Homo sapiens: one gene and its partners. The protein of the gene in region 4 interacts with the protein of the main gene of each other region in a pairwise test. Each region holds a gene or a part of one and is shown on either strand. Other genes may lie near its edges.

Region 1 (3,500 bases), on a different chromosome or scaffold from region 4:
GCTGCAGTGAGCCGAGACCGCACCACTGCACTCCAGCCTGGAACAGATCGAGACTCCGTCTCAAAAAGATAGCAACTAAGATAATAAGTGTATTTCACTGTAACTTTTTACTTACTTTAGCAGGTTTTTCACCTTTCACTTCCACATTTTCCAATATCCTTGCCACTCCTATTCCTTTAATTACTTGGCCAAACACCACATGTTTCCCATCCAAATGAGGAGTTGGAACTGTTGTGATAAAAAACTGAGAACCGTTTGTGTTGCGGCCTGCATTTGCCATGCTCAGTAAACCCTCCCGATCATGCTGTAGAAATAAAAATTAAAAGAAAACCAAGGTTAGATGTGTTCTTTTCTGAATTGTGTGTTAGTCTGAACTGTTCTTTTACTGAACATAAAACTGGGGTGCACTATACTACCATTTAGATCAAACTACTTTTTTTTACTTTTCACTTATAAAATTTTTTAATTACTTTTTATTTTTTTATAAACTGCAACCTTTAATTCACAAAACATGGGGCACTTAATCACTTTAAACTTTAAAAAACCTTATCAAAGTAAATAGGTAACAGAAACAATAGTCGGGGGGAGGGTTATTTCTAAATTGGCCATGAGAAAATACTTACACTTCACCTTTAAAATGAAGATGCAGCATTATGAAACTCTTGTAATATATTTTGCCCTCTTTATGATGAATGCTCTTTTTTTCTGGGAAGACCTGAACGGTCTTCCAAATTCATAAATATGCCTACAGTATAAGTCTTCCTTTACAAAACATCAATAAACTGGAACAATAATGGGATACTGAATTTACCCAAGACATTCAGTTTGGTACTTTCCTAATCTCAAAAGAATCCAAATCATACAGGATTTGGATTAGGTTTTCATCCCAGATGAATCACCTCTTCGGAGAGTGCTCAAAAGAAACTGCTGCATACATCTTGAAATCAAAATTCTACCTTGGCATAATCCTGTCAAAGGATCTATGAAACCCAATTTCTTAACCTTTTCACTTTATCTCCTAGGCTTTCTAAATGTATTCCTTGTTGGTGCATGCACCGTAACTCTCATGTTATATAATGTTTCATGACACCCCCCACCCCACCAAAATGCCTTTTACTCCCCTCAGTCTAAATCAAATTCAGATTTTAAGGCCACCACGTTTATAGAAAGCAAGAATCATGTGTCTTGTCTATAGGCCCCTTTTCTCTATGTCAATGTGATCATCACATCACCTTTAGTTTTCATCCTTCTGGTAGCTTCCTTTGGTACAACAGTAACTAGAACTTTATTTCCTCAACGTCTCTTGCCTTTGTCTTTCCTCACCGACGTCCCTTTTTAAATTCTGCATCAATACTACAGTTCCTGCCTAACCAAATCTCAGACATGTTGCCGCCTTGCAAGACCCAGTCTGCACAGCCCAAGTAGCCATTCCTCCTCAATGACTTCCATAATAATTCAGACTGCATAAATCACATCTTTCTCCTGCAGTATATAGACAGTATTAGCAATGTTATACAAGCAAGGATATTCAATCAATTTAGCATTTATTTATATACTATTATTCTCCAGTAGTCCCATGTATCTTAATCTTGTCTCTGAGGTAGGATTATAAATTCCTTGTCATCAAGGCCTTTCATTTTTATAAACCCTTTGGTGCCAGTGATAGTGGCTCAATAAACACTGACTGGAAGACTGACGACATTTTTTCAAATTATCCTAATACCCTTGCTCATATTCCTTATTTCCAAAAATATCACTTTACTTTTGTACTTACATGTCCATTCTTATAACTTGAATGATGCAATATACCCCAATTACATCTTGGGACAACGAAGACAAGAAGGCACAGGCACCACTGAAGTCCTTTAGGAGCTTGGACATTTAACTATATCTGCTAGTGTGCAAATCCCCTGACATCCTGGATATTAGTGATGGTTTTGTTGCTCTTCAAATTCAAGGATAAGGATGCACAAGTTACCATCCTTCCAACAATGGAAACATTTTTCCTGGAAACAATTTTGCCAGATGCTGGTCGCATTTAAAAACTCACTGGCTTAACTGAAGCATATAAAAACTGGATCACAATGAAATAATGCTGAATTAATCATTACTGAATGAAAACTTTTCCATATTAAAGAACCATTATTTACAAAAGTGATTCCTATTACAAGAAATGGAGAATCTAAGCACACTTGAAACATTTTTTGGTGTCTTAATCCAACAAGTATTCCAGATATATAACAATCTTTTTATCAGCAATAACATGCATTTTCTCTACTTTACCTTGTAATGGAAATTTTCATCTTCAAATTTTTCACCATAAATACTTTCTCCACCTGTCCCATTCTGATTTGAGAAGTCTCCACCCTGAATCATAAATTTCTTAATAACTACAAAAAAGGAAAATGGCTATTAGTGACTGAGACATGGATGCCTTTAGCAATGCTTACTAATGGATACGTACGTAAGACAACTTTGTAGTGCATGACTCTAGTCATGTCTCTCTCCTGTTTGTCGCTCCCCACCCGTCTCCGCAACTCCAAACGCTTCAGGCTTTTCACCATCTGAATCCAACCTATTTTCACTGCCTGATCCCTGCTAACATTCAGAAAATCGGTTCAAATGATACCTCCCCTATAAAACTGTCACTGAAATCCCTAAGCTGTATGTCCTAATTTTTCTCCCATAGTATCTTGACTCTGCCTACATAACATATGGCATTATGATCTGCCCCTTCCAGCAATGATCTCCTTAAGTACACCAACTGTATTGTTTTACATCCTTATAACTATGTGCATGTACACATAGTACATATTAGTTACTCAATAATGTCTGCTGAATACAGACCAATGATTCCCAGTAGATTTGTTCTACCCTAATGGAAAATTTTCAGCAAATATATCACTTTGTGTCAAAGGTTACCAAGATTGCTTTCATGTTCAGAGAACCCTAGAGCTCACACAAATCAGTATGTGGTTGGATCACAGTGGTAAGGATACACAGCGAGATGACGGGAAAGACACAGGCAGAGTCTGGAAAAATCCATGTGCAGGCTTCCTTATGCTTTCTCCGTCCCATGAAGTGCTACAGAACACACACTTCCCCCAGCAACAAAAATGCAGCAACATGTACACAGTATTTCTGCCCAGGAGAGCCAATTAGAGACTCAGCACCCAAGGTATTTATTGGGCACACTCTACCTAGCATGTACCAAAATTCCAGACTCCCCAAAAGAGAGCACACATTCATGTTTGTACAAATAGGCTAGGCATAGTAAATCACCATTACTATTTAGGAAATGGTACAAGTGTCAAGTTCCCAGACTCCAAACAAGTGCTACTCTTGCAGGCAGACCTTTCTAAAGATAGCAGTCTCACACTTGCTATGTTAAATATTTTCTGCATATAGTTTATTAGCATATTTCAAGTTTTTATTAAACATGAAAGTAAACATTTTAAATATTTTTTAAAAAGTTAATTTTTTCTTAATAAATCGTTTAA
Region 2 (3,500 bases), on a different chromosome or scaffold from region 4:
AATAAAGAAGGAGGTAGACCATATTCAGGGAAGGGAAGTTGGTATCTCTCAGAAAGTGTTAGATGTGTACACTTTTTGCCAGTGTTCTGAGACTTCCGTTTTCAAGGTTCTGTGCAGCATTGGGGCAGCTATTTGTGTTTTAAGTTTTGTCACGTAAGATAATTACCTATCCTTGGCATTAGCTGTAGTCAGATGCTTTTAGCTAATAGTTATGATTCACCCTTACAATGACAAACCAACTAGGTTAGAAACTTTAAGGTAATTTTTTACCTTTTCTTTAATTAGCACTTTTTTTTATTTTTGAGACAGAGTCTCGCTCTGTCACCCAGGCTGGAGTGCAGTGGCACAGTCTCAGCTCACTGCAACCTCCATCTCCTGGGTTCAAGTGATTCTTCTGCCTCAGTCTCCCAAGTAGCTGGAACCACAGGCACGTGCCACAACTCCTGGCTAATTTTTTATATTTTTAGTAGAGACAGGGCTTCACCGTGTTAGCCAGGATGGTCTCGATCTCCTGACCTTGTCATCTGCCCACCTCGGCCTCCCAAAGTGTTGGGATTACAAGCATGAGCCACCGTGTCAGCCTAATTAGCACTTTTGATTACCATCCAACTCACTTTACCTCTTCCAAATATCCAGGACAATATCATAATCTGAAAATTTTTTTGTGGACATAAAACATTTTTCATAATATTCCATTACCATAGAAATTCTTTATTATAATAATTCTTGTATTCAGCTCTAAAAAATGTAATATACAAGTTACATGAACAATTGTAGCTAAAAATATATACAGCAATTAAAAGTTTTTTAAAAGTTCATGTACATATTATGAATTTTAAATATGGAAATATGTTTTAATTCAATATTCTATTTTTGTAGAATTTTGGACAAAGTGTCCTGCTAAGTTCAAGTGAGCCAAAACAAACTACAAGGGGTACTTCTTATATTGAAGAAGGTATGTTTTAGTTTAAACATTTTTCTCTGATCTTTGTTCCCAGTGATTTTTTTTCTTGTATGCCTATTCTCAGATGCTAACGTATTATGTAATTGTTAAAGCACCATTTAAAACCTGAACTCTCCTCACCCCTGCACATCCAGGTCATTGTCAGTGTTCCTTTATTCTAAATAATAATGTATTGAACATCTTTCTACATCAAGTTATTTTCTGATTTTTACTTATTTCTGTAGGTTAGATTTCCAGAATTAAAATTACAGTAACTGACATGTAAATGCCACCCAGTAAATATTTATTGAATTAAACTCCATGTATTAAATGAATACTGGATCAAAAGAAATAAGCATTGATATGGCTGTTCATATATATTGCTAAAGTATTTTCCGGAAAAGTATTATTCAAAATTGTTCTAGTAGTGTGTGTCCAGTGGTGTATGTCAACTTGAGGTAGAATCTTTTCATATTTGCTATAGACAGAAAAATAGTATTATATTAGTTTTGATTTCTATACCTTTCATTAATATTATGCTTAATTGCTTTTCTGTGTATTTTTTGGTGAACTGTCTCTTTGTACTCTTTTTTCTTAGATATTAGAGTTCGAAATTTTCTTACTGATGTCTGCAAATTATTTAGCTATGAAGGATTCTAATTCTTATATTAGTTGAAGATGTTTCATTACTACTTGCATGTTATTCTACTTATATTGTATTTTCACATATATTTTAATTTGTATCTGTTCATTCAGTAAATGATTATTGAGAGCTAATCTTCTGCTTACAAGTAGGTATTGGATATACATGTAGAATATCCCTAATCCAAATATTTCAAAATCAAAAATGCTCCAAAATCCAAAATTTTTTGACCCCTGACATGATACCACAAATGGAAAATTTTACACCTGACTTCATATGATGGGTCACAGCTAAAACACAAGCTCATACCATACAGTTTATTTAGCATCCCCAAGGGGAAAAAAGATCCTCTCAGCCCTCTTCAGCTGCACTATATCTTTCCCATGCACACCCAGATTCCCCCATGTAAGCATGCTCACAAGGAGTAATAAAATGATACATGTACCAATGGCAGATTCCCCACGAGACCCCACATGGGGCCAAGACCTACATGCATTACTCACTGTATTTTTTTGCTTTTTCTCTGCTTTGTGATGTAAAGATATTGTTGAAAATATCAAAAAGACCTGAAGATACCCCTGTGGGTAGCAGTGATAAGAAAAAGAGGAAACATTTCTGTTTATCAATAGCCCAGAAAGTCAAACTTGGAGAAACTACACCAGCAACCTAAGTGTAAAATGTCTTATAGAAAAGGATGGTGTTGGAATGACCACAATATATGACCTGAAGAAACAGAAGGATAAACTGTTGAAGTTCTGCTTTGGAAGAGATGAACAGAAGTTAATGCAAAACATTAAACACTGCATAGGATTTCAACCATGAAGTCAAAGAGTGGATCCATCAGCGTCGCATGAGCACATGCCACTTAATGGTATGCTGATCATGAAACAAGCAAAGATCTATCATGATGAACTGAAAATTGAAGAGAACCATGAATATTCAACAGGCTGGTTATAGAAATTTAAGACACAGCATTATTTTTAAAGATTTGTGGTGATCAAGCGTCTGCTGATTACAAAGCAGCAGAGAAATTCATTGAAGAGTTTGCCAAGGTCATCGCTGATGAATATCTGACACCAGAAGAAGTATATGTTACTGATGAACATCACTGGTTTGGTGTTGTTACTCAAAAAAACATTGACTATAGCTGATGAGACAGCCCCTACAAGAATTAAGAATAACAGAATAACTGCTAGGATGTGCTAATGACTCAGTCACGCCCAAGTGTAAATTTGCTATGATAGGCAAAAGCTTGTGTCCTCACTGATTTCAAGGAGTGAATTTCTTACCAGTCCATTAATGTGCTAACAAAAGGACATGGATCACCAGGGACATCTTTTCTGATTGGTTTCACAAACACTTTATATCAGGGAAGCTGGATTGAATGATGACTGCAAGATTTTGTTATTCTTTGACAACTGTTCTTTTCATCCTCCAGCTGAAATTCTCATCAAAAATAATCTTTATGCCACGTGCTTTCCCCCAAATATTACTTCATTAATTCAGCTGTGTGACCAGACTATCGTTAGGTAGATGAAGAGTAAATACATATAAACACTTTCTTGAACAGCATGCCAGCAACAGTGAACAGAGATGTGGATGTAGAAGGTTTTCAAAACGAGTTTAGCATGAAAGATGCCATACATGCTGTTGCAAACACTTGGAACACAGGGACTAAAGACACAATTGTGCATTCCTGGCACAACCTCTGGCCTGCAACTATGTTCAGTGATGATGAACAAGGTAGTGACTGAAGGATTCTGTATGTCAAGTGAGAAAAAATTATGTCTGACCTCATTACGTAAGCAAAAAAATATACCTTCAGAGTCTATCAGTAAGCTGGAAGAAGTGGATATCAAAGAGGTTATTAACATCGATAATAAGACTCCAGGTGTTTTCATTGACCAATGATGA
Region 3 (3,500 bases), on a different chromosome or scaffold from region 4:
CATATTTATTTCAAAATTTAAACATTTAAACACGAAAGGGGGAAAGCAAAAGCTCTTTATTACAGAAAACAGTTAATGAATATAAACAAATAACAAAATTAGAAAACCCCCAATAAATGACTCAGCTAATAATCATCAATCATTAAGTGAAAAATATTTTGAGAAGTGAGGTACTCACATGATGCTAAAGTTATCACCCCACAGATCAAGTATAACTGCAAAGGGAAAAATATACCTCTTTGATGAAGAAATCCAATGGACACATTAACCAGGTAAATTTGGCATTGTAAATAACGCAAGCTAACATCTGGCAGTCCCTACCACCTTATTGAAGGCTCATAGCTAGAAGTATATCCTCACAACATAAATCACGTATCATCACCTGTGAAGTTTTTTCTTTTTTTTTTTTTTTTTTTTTTTTTTTTTGAGACAGGGTTCTCTTGTCGCCTAGGCTGGAGTACAGCAGCAGGATGTCGGCTCACTGCAGCCTCCACCTCTCTGGCTCAAGCCATCCTCCTGTCTCAACCTCCCAAGTAGCTGGGACTACAGGCGCAGGCCACCAAACCCAGCATTTTTTTTTCTTTTTTTAAAATAGAGACAGGGTTTTGCCAAATTGTCCAGGCTGGTCTTGAACTCCTGGGCTCTAGCAATCCATCTGCCTCAGCCTCTCAAAGTGCTGGGATTACAGACATGAGCCAGCGCACCTGGCCTCTATGAAGTATTTTTGCCAAAAATATTTGACCCAAATTTAGTCAAACCTCTCTAGATCTAACTTCTAGTTTACAGGAAATAAAAGGAATAGAGAAACAACAGGAATTGAGAAACAAAATACATGACATTTTAAGCATACAATAAGAAATTCCAAAATATGGAACGTTCTTTAAAAAGATGAGGCTAGCTGTTTGTGGTGACAGAGTCAGGAAGGGGCAGCAGGTGCCAGGTCCGGCCTCAAAGGTGGCAAGAAGAACCCTTTGAAACTGCCCAAAAAGCAGGCCAAGAAGATGAATAAGGCTTTCAAGCAGAAACAAGAAAAGGAACGAAAGAAACACAAGGAGCTAAAAGCGAAAGCCTCCTGGAAGGGGCTCCGGCCACAGGTGGAATTTAAAAATCTGGCAGAAAGTAAGCTGTGCCCTGTGCCTGAAGCAATGGTGACCCTTGATTTCATTCGTATTTAAACATCTGTATTCCCTGCCATAATATCTGTTGCCACCTATAGCTGGAATGAAGTGTCGTCTTGAAGCTGGAGTCTACTGCACATTAAAGAATAAACTTTTGTTTAAAAAAAAAAAAAAAACCGCAGGTGTGGTGGCTCACACCTGTAATCCTAGCACTTTGTGAGGCCAAGGTGGGCAGATTGCTTGAGCTGGGAGGTTGAGGCTGCAGTGAGCTGTGATTGTGCCACTGCACTCCAACCTGGATGACAAAGTAAGACCCTGTCTCAAAATAAACAAAATTTTAAAATTTTAAATAAAAAATATTAATAAAATAAATTAAAATGCTTACAGTGGCTCATCATCTCTTTAGTTGTTTTTCTTTTTCTTTTTTTTTTTTTTTTTGAGACAGTCTCGCTCTGTTGCCCTGGCTGCAGTGCAGTGGCACAATTTCAGCTCACTACAACCTCCACCTCCTGGGTTCAAGCGATTCTCATGCCTCAGTCTCCCGAGTAGCTGGGACTACAGGCATGCGCAACCACACCCGGCTAATTTTTGTATTTTTAGTAGAGACGAGGTTACACAATGTTGGCCAGGCTGGTCTCAAACTCCTGACCTCAGGTGATCTGCTCACCTCAGCCTCCCAAGTGCTGGGATTACAGGCGTGAGCCACTGCGCCCGGCCTCTCTTTAGTTGTTTTCACTCCATTCCTGCCTTAGCTATGAATTTAAAGTAAAACCAGCCCAGAATCTTGCCAGAGACTGCTCTTTGGTCTTTGTTCTACCCTAAACTCTGTGTAACCTAGAATTAAACCAACTCTTCAACAACTGTGGAACAAAGCCAAAAAAAAATAGAACTACACCAACTCATTCGAAAAAAAAAAAAAGATGATGCTAAAGATTTCATGCTAATTGCCTTAGGTATGATAATGATTTTATATGTTTTCAGCTGGAGACTGGCTTGAAATAAAAATGTAGAAAAGCGTAGGAAAAAGCATTATTTCAAAGACATGCATCCTGAGGTATTACAGGGAAAAGCAGTATATCTGCAATTTAATTTCAAATCATTCAAGAAAGGGAGGATATAGAGTTAAAGCAAAATGGTTAAATGTTGGTTAACAGTCGAATCCAAACAGAAGGCATATGGGTGTTCACTGTAGTATTCTTTCACCTTTGCTGCATGTTTGAAATTTTTTTTTTTAAGACGGCATTTCACTCTTGTTGCCCAGGCTGAAGTACAATGCGCAATCTCAGCTCACTGCAACCTCCGCCTCCAAGGTTGAAGCAATTCTCTTGCCTCAGCTTCCCAAGTAGCTGGGATTACAGGAATGTGCCACCACGCCCAGCTAATTTTTTTTGTATTTAGTAGGGATGGGGTTTCACCATGTTGGCCAGGCTGGTCTTGAACTCCTGACCTCAGGTGATCCACCTGCCTCGGCCTCCCAAAGTGCTGGGATTACAGATGTGAGCCACTGCACCTGGCTTGAAATTTCTTAAAGTTGCAAAAAAGTTACCAGAATATTCCATATACCAAAAAAGGAAAATTGCTGCTCCACCTACTAAGTTGAGAGCAAACAGAGTAGAGAGCAGGTGCCTATAACAACAAACTGCCTAAAGCACAGTTTTGCACGTATCATCCCACTCAAGGATCTGCTCAAAATGGTAAGGCATAGAGGCAGGTACTAATGGGACACAAAGTAACAGAAGGCAGTCACACAGACACTAGACTAACTAAACAAGTTATGAATAAATGAGAGTCACTGAAGACCTCATTAATTGGATTTAGCTGGATTTTAAGGACTGAACAGAATAGGAATAGTGTGAAAGGAAGGAGAATACAATCTAGGCAAAGAGTTAATAAGCAACAGCCAAAGATCAGAAATAAACCAAGTCATGAGGGGAATTTTTGTAGAAAATTCATTCTTCAATTTGTATAATGCCTAGGTTTTAGGAATACAAAAATATAAGGTACTATAGCACGTCTTCAACGTGCTCACAAAGAGCTGGCAGCAGGGACTCATGACTCCCAAGACTTTGAAAGGCTGAAGTGGGAGGATCGCTTGAGCCTAGGAATTAGAGGCTACAGTGAGCCATGATCATGCCACTGTATTCCAGCCTGGGTGACAAAGTGAGACCCTGTCTCAGAAAACAAACAAACAAACTAAAAACCAAAGTATTCACAAGTAGTGGAGAAGGTATAGTCAAAATACATTAAAGATATATACAAAATGCTTTAATAGCAGAGAAAGGAGTGATTAACTTATCAGAGGAATGAGATTGTCAGTAAATTTCAACAAAGATATTTGAGTTAATGTTTAAAACTGAAAATGATGTCACCAATTAAATTCAT
Region 4 (3,500 bases):
TCAGCACATGACCACTGAAGAGCCTAAGAAGCTAAATCCCAACAGAACACAAAACATTTCTGGATGATCCTGGGAGAGAGAACCACAGAACAAAGGATGTCATGAAGCTAGGGCACACTGACCTAGAGAGTTACAGCCTGGTGTAGGACACTTCATATTGAAGTTGTAGCTTTCATGGAAGCGACGGCGCTTGGGGCGATGAGAGAGATCACTGCCTGAGTCCTTCAGGGACATGTCCTTGGCAATGCTCTCATCGTGAGATACATTGGGGCTGGAGATGTCTATGTCAGACTCAGAAGAAGGCGCATTTCCAGTTGGAGTTCGAGGCGGTGACTCATCATGATCAGCTGTATTTTTAGTTTCTAAAGCAAAAGCAATTGGTAGAAGTTATGAGTGGAGTTCATTTATTTAGAAGTTTACTATTCAGAGTTTATGGGCTTCCCAGGTTCTTTTTCTATGATTTAACCAGTAACTTTCAGCTATTCATCTGCTAGATGGCTAAATGGAAAATGAAGAGGCACTTCTACACCATCCATTTTGTGCAACTTTAAATTCTGATTAAAATTAAATTTGTACTTCATCTATTACACCTATCTGTATTTCTCCTGAGTTGCTAATCATGGATAATCAAAACTAGATGGAAATACGTTTTTAAAACATTACTATCCCACTTCCCTTCCAGGAGATACACAGGACAGAAGATAAGTGACAGTGATTATCTTTCTGGATGACACTGAACAGGCTTGGTGTAAGATGTGAATGGACTTAGAGTCTTGAGTGAGCCTGTTTGTAGTCTAACAATTCAATCTTGAAATTCCAGACTCTAAATCAGGAATTGCAAACCAAATGCCTACAGGGGCTCAGCAAGGCCAAAGAGACAGCTCATTGTCCATCTAAAGGGGACAACTACTATTCAACTCCAGCCAATTATTACTATGGGTGATTGGCCGCCCAGTGTTCCCAGATCTTTTCATTGTTTAAAATAAACTATTAATCCAGGTTTTTATATGAAATCATTGTGTTTTCAAATACTAGCAACAAATTTAAAAAATTTTAAACACTGTGCAAGCAAACCAACCAACCATGCGGACAGCTAGAAGTAGTTCACCAGTCTGTGACCTCTGCATTAAGAAATTTGGAGATAAATGGACTGAGAAGTATGGCTATAAGAAAAGTCTGCTTCAAGCCCTTTTCAAATGTGGTTAAGAAGGGCCCAGTCTCTTTTTCCTATTACAGGTACGATTTAATATACTCCAGCTACTCTGGACCTTGAGAATATTCTGATATCAAACTGTCCTCAGCAATGTATAAGAAAGGAGGCTGGGCATGGTGGCTTATACCTGTAATCCCAGCACTTTGGGAGGCTGAGGCGGGTGGATCACGAGGTCAGGAGATCGAGACCATCCTGACTAACACAGTGAAACCCCGTCTCTACTAAAAATACAAAAAATTAGCCTGGCGTGGTGGCAGGCGCCTGTAGTCCCAGCTACTCAGGAGGCTGAGGCAGGAGAATGGCGTGAACCCGGGAGGCAGAGCTTGCAGTGAGCCAAGATTGCACCACTGCACTCCAGCCTGGGCAATAGAGCGAGACTCCGTCTCAAAAAAAAAAAAAAAGACATAAGAAAGGAAGCAAGCAAACAGCATTCATCTAGCTGAAGTATTAGGCATCTACCTGCAGTGGCCCCAAGCCCTCCTTAAAAAGAATTTCACCCAGATGCTCTGTAATAGGTCTAAGTCATACCATACCCACTCACCTCTATCTGAAAAATCAACCACTTGCTCAGTTTCTGAACCAGATGAACGAGTCTGCCGAAGAGGGTATTTTTTCGGTGTCACTGGGGTAGGCTGCTGCTGACTACGGGTCACTCTTCTGGTAGAGTAAGCAGGCTCCTCAGTGCCAAAAGACTGCAGATTTCGAACAGGACTGGAATCTGATCCCAATTTTAAAAGAAAATAAAGAAAAAAGATGGAAATCTGTTTTACTTCCTATCCATATAATTTATCAGAATATCGCTCCTCCTCCTCTTCATATTTCACAAAATCCAACAAATCCTTAAAATATCTATTTAATTAAATAAAATATAAGCAAAAGAGCCTAGCTCAGGTATACAGATGTAATGTAGTACAGCATTAATAAGTTTAGGTTCTGGAATTAGGACTGAACTTGATTCAACTCCACTCCACCATACCAACTAGCTGTGGCATCTTGGGCAAGTTATTTTCTCCAAGCCTGTTTCCTGACCTATTGAAAAGGAAAATACTAGTAGCACATTCCTCATAACACTGTGGTGAGGAATAGGTGAGATAATGCATGTGAAGCACTTAACATGATCCGTGGTACAGAGTGCTTTATAAATATTAACTGCATCCTCTCATTCTTCCCTTTTTCTAACCCACCATAAAACAGATATTCTATTACCAAAGATATAACAACAAACAAAACGATTTCCTTTCTTAAGGGGCCGATTTTTTTTTCTTTCTTATTACCCTCTCTGGCACTGTCATAATAGATTCATAAAGGTAAAGCAGGAATGCAGCATTTTAAGTTTTTTGGATAGAAAAACCTATTCTGAGGCACTCAGCAGCCCTTTTATATCTCCAACCTGAGGACAAAGGAAATGAAGGAAAATTCAAAGCTGAAATTAAAGCATTTTTAAAAAATATATGTAGATATGTTTTAGTTTTTTTGTGCTTTTTTTTTTATAAAGAGACATGTTTAATCATAGCTTGCTCTTCACAGAGATGACTACAGAGACTTTTAATCTATAATCCAGGAGTATATAACCATGCAGTACAGACCAATTAGCCAAATGTAAAATAAACTAGATTCTTACCACAACTGCCCTATAAACATTGCAACTATTCTTTGCAAAAGGACCCTACATCTTATGTGAAAACACCTAGTGTAGGGGAACCAGAAACCTAGCTATGTGGCCAAAAGTAAAAACCAAAGGAAAAAATAACAATTCAGTGGTTAATTGGTGAAAGCAGGAAATTTGTGCCCTTTACTGTGCTGCTGCTTTGGTCTTCTTACTTTTGTTCTTTTTGTCCCTTTTCTTCAGCCCATCCATGTTAGCACTCGGTAGGTTTGAATAAGCCATCTGAAACTTATTCACTTGGTTGGAGCTCACCACAGTGCTGACCTTCTTTTTCCCATCGATAGCTCTTAACAGACACTTGTCTGAGGGCTCAAAGCCCTCCACAGAACCTTTCTTTGGAACGGGTTTGGTTCCACCACCATACTTCTTCAAGGTGATATAGATGCTGCCCGATGTCCAGCACTTCTGGAAAAGTCTGGTCAGCTCCGTCAGGAACTGCTCACTCTCCAACAACACCATCGTGGTGATGCTGGCTCAATTCCCTCCGTGTAAGCCCCTAGCAGTCTTAGTTTTGTTTTAATTGACATGTAAGTGTACATATTTATAGAGTATACTGTGATGTTCTGATAGACGTATACATTGTGTAATGATGAAATCAAAATAATTAGCATATCCATATCT

The links. Proteins that work in one complex are often made in the same cells at the same time.
Region 1: the proteins of KAT7 (region 4) and PPID interact in a two-hybrid assay, tested with the Homo sapiens proteins (one large-scale study listed by BioGRID and IntAct).
Region 2: the proteins of KAT7 (region 4) and CEP126 interact in a two-hybrid assay, tested with the Homo sapiens proteins (one large-scale study listed by IntAct).
Region 3: the proteins of KAT7 (region 4) and WDR33 interact in a two-hybrid assay, tested with the Homo sapiens proteins (one large-scale study listed by BioGRID and IntAct).

The regions. Positions count from the first base shown.
Region 1 is NC_000004.12:158,716,897-158,720,396, forward strand, and holds part of PPID (peptidyl-prolyl cis-trans isomerase D), read right to left. Parts: intron 2,391-3,500; coding exon 2,284-2,390; intron 305-2,283; coding exon 116-304; intron 1-115. UniProt on the Homo sapiens protein: PPIase that catalyzes the cis-trans isomerization of proline imidic peptide bonds in oligopeptides and may therefore assist protein folding. Proposed to act as a co-chaperone in HSP90 complexes such as in unligated steroid receptors heterocomplexes.
Region 2 is NC_000011.10:101,981,010-101,984,509, forward strand, and holds part of CEP126 (centrosomal protein of 126 kDa), read left to right. Parts: intron 1-879; coding exon 880-955; intron 956-3,500. UniProt on the Homo sapiens protein: Participates in cytokinesis. Necessary for microtubules and mitotic spindle organization. Involved in primary cilium formation.
Region 3 is NC_000002.12:127,804,672-127,808,171, forward strand, and holds part of WDR33 (pre-mRNA 3' end processing protein WDR33), read right to left. Parts: intron 1-3,500. UniProt on the Homo sapiens protein: Essential for both cleavage and polyadenylation of pre-mRNA 3' ends.
Region 4 is NC_000017.11:49,795,181-49,798,680, reverse strand, and holds part of KAT7 (histone acetyltransferase KAT7), read right to left. Parts: intron 1,932-3,500; coding exon 1,755-1,931; intron 363-1,754; coding exon 123-362; intron 1-122. UniProt on the Homo sapiens protein: Catalytic subunit of histone acetyltransferase HBO1 complexes, which specifically mediate acetylation of histone H3 at 'Lys-14' (H3K14ac), thereby regulating various processes, such as gene transcription, protein ubiquitination, immune regulation, stem cell pluripotent and self-renewal maintenance and embryonic development.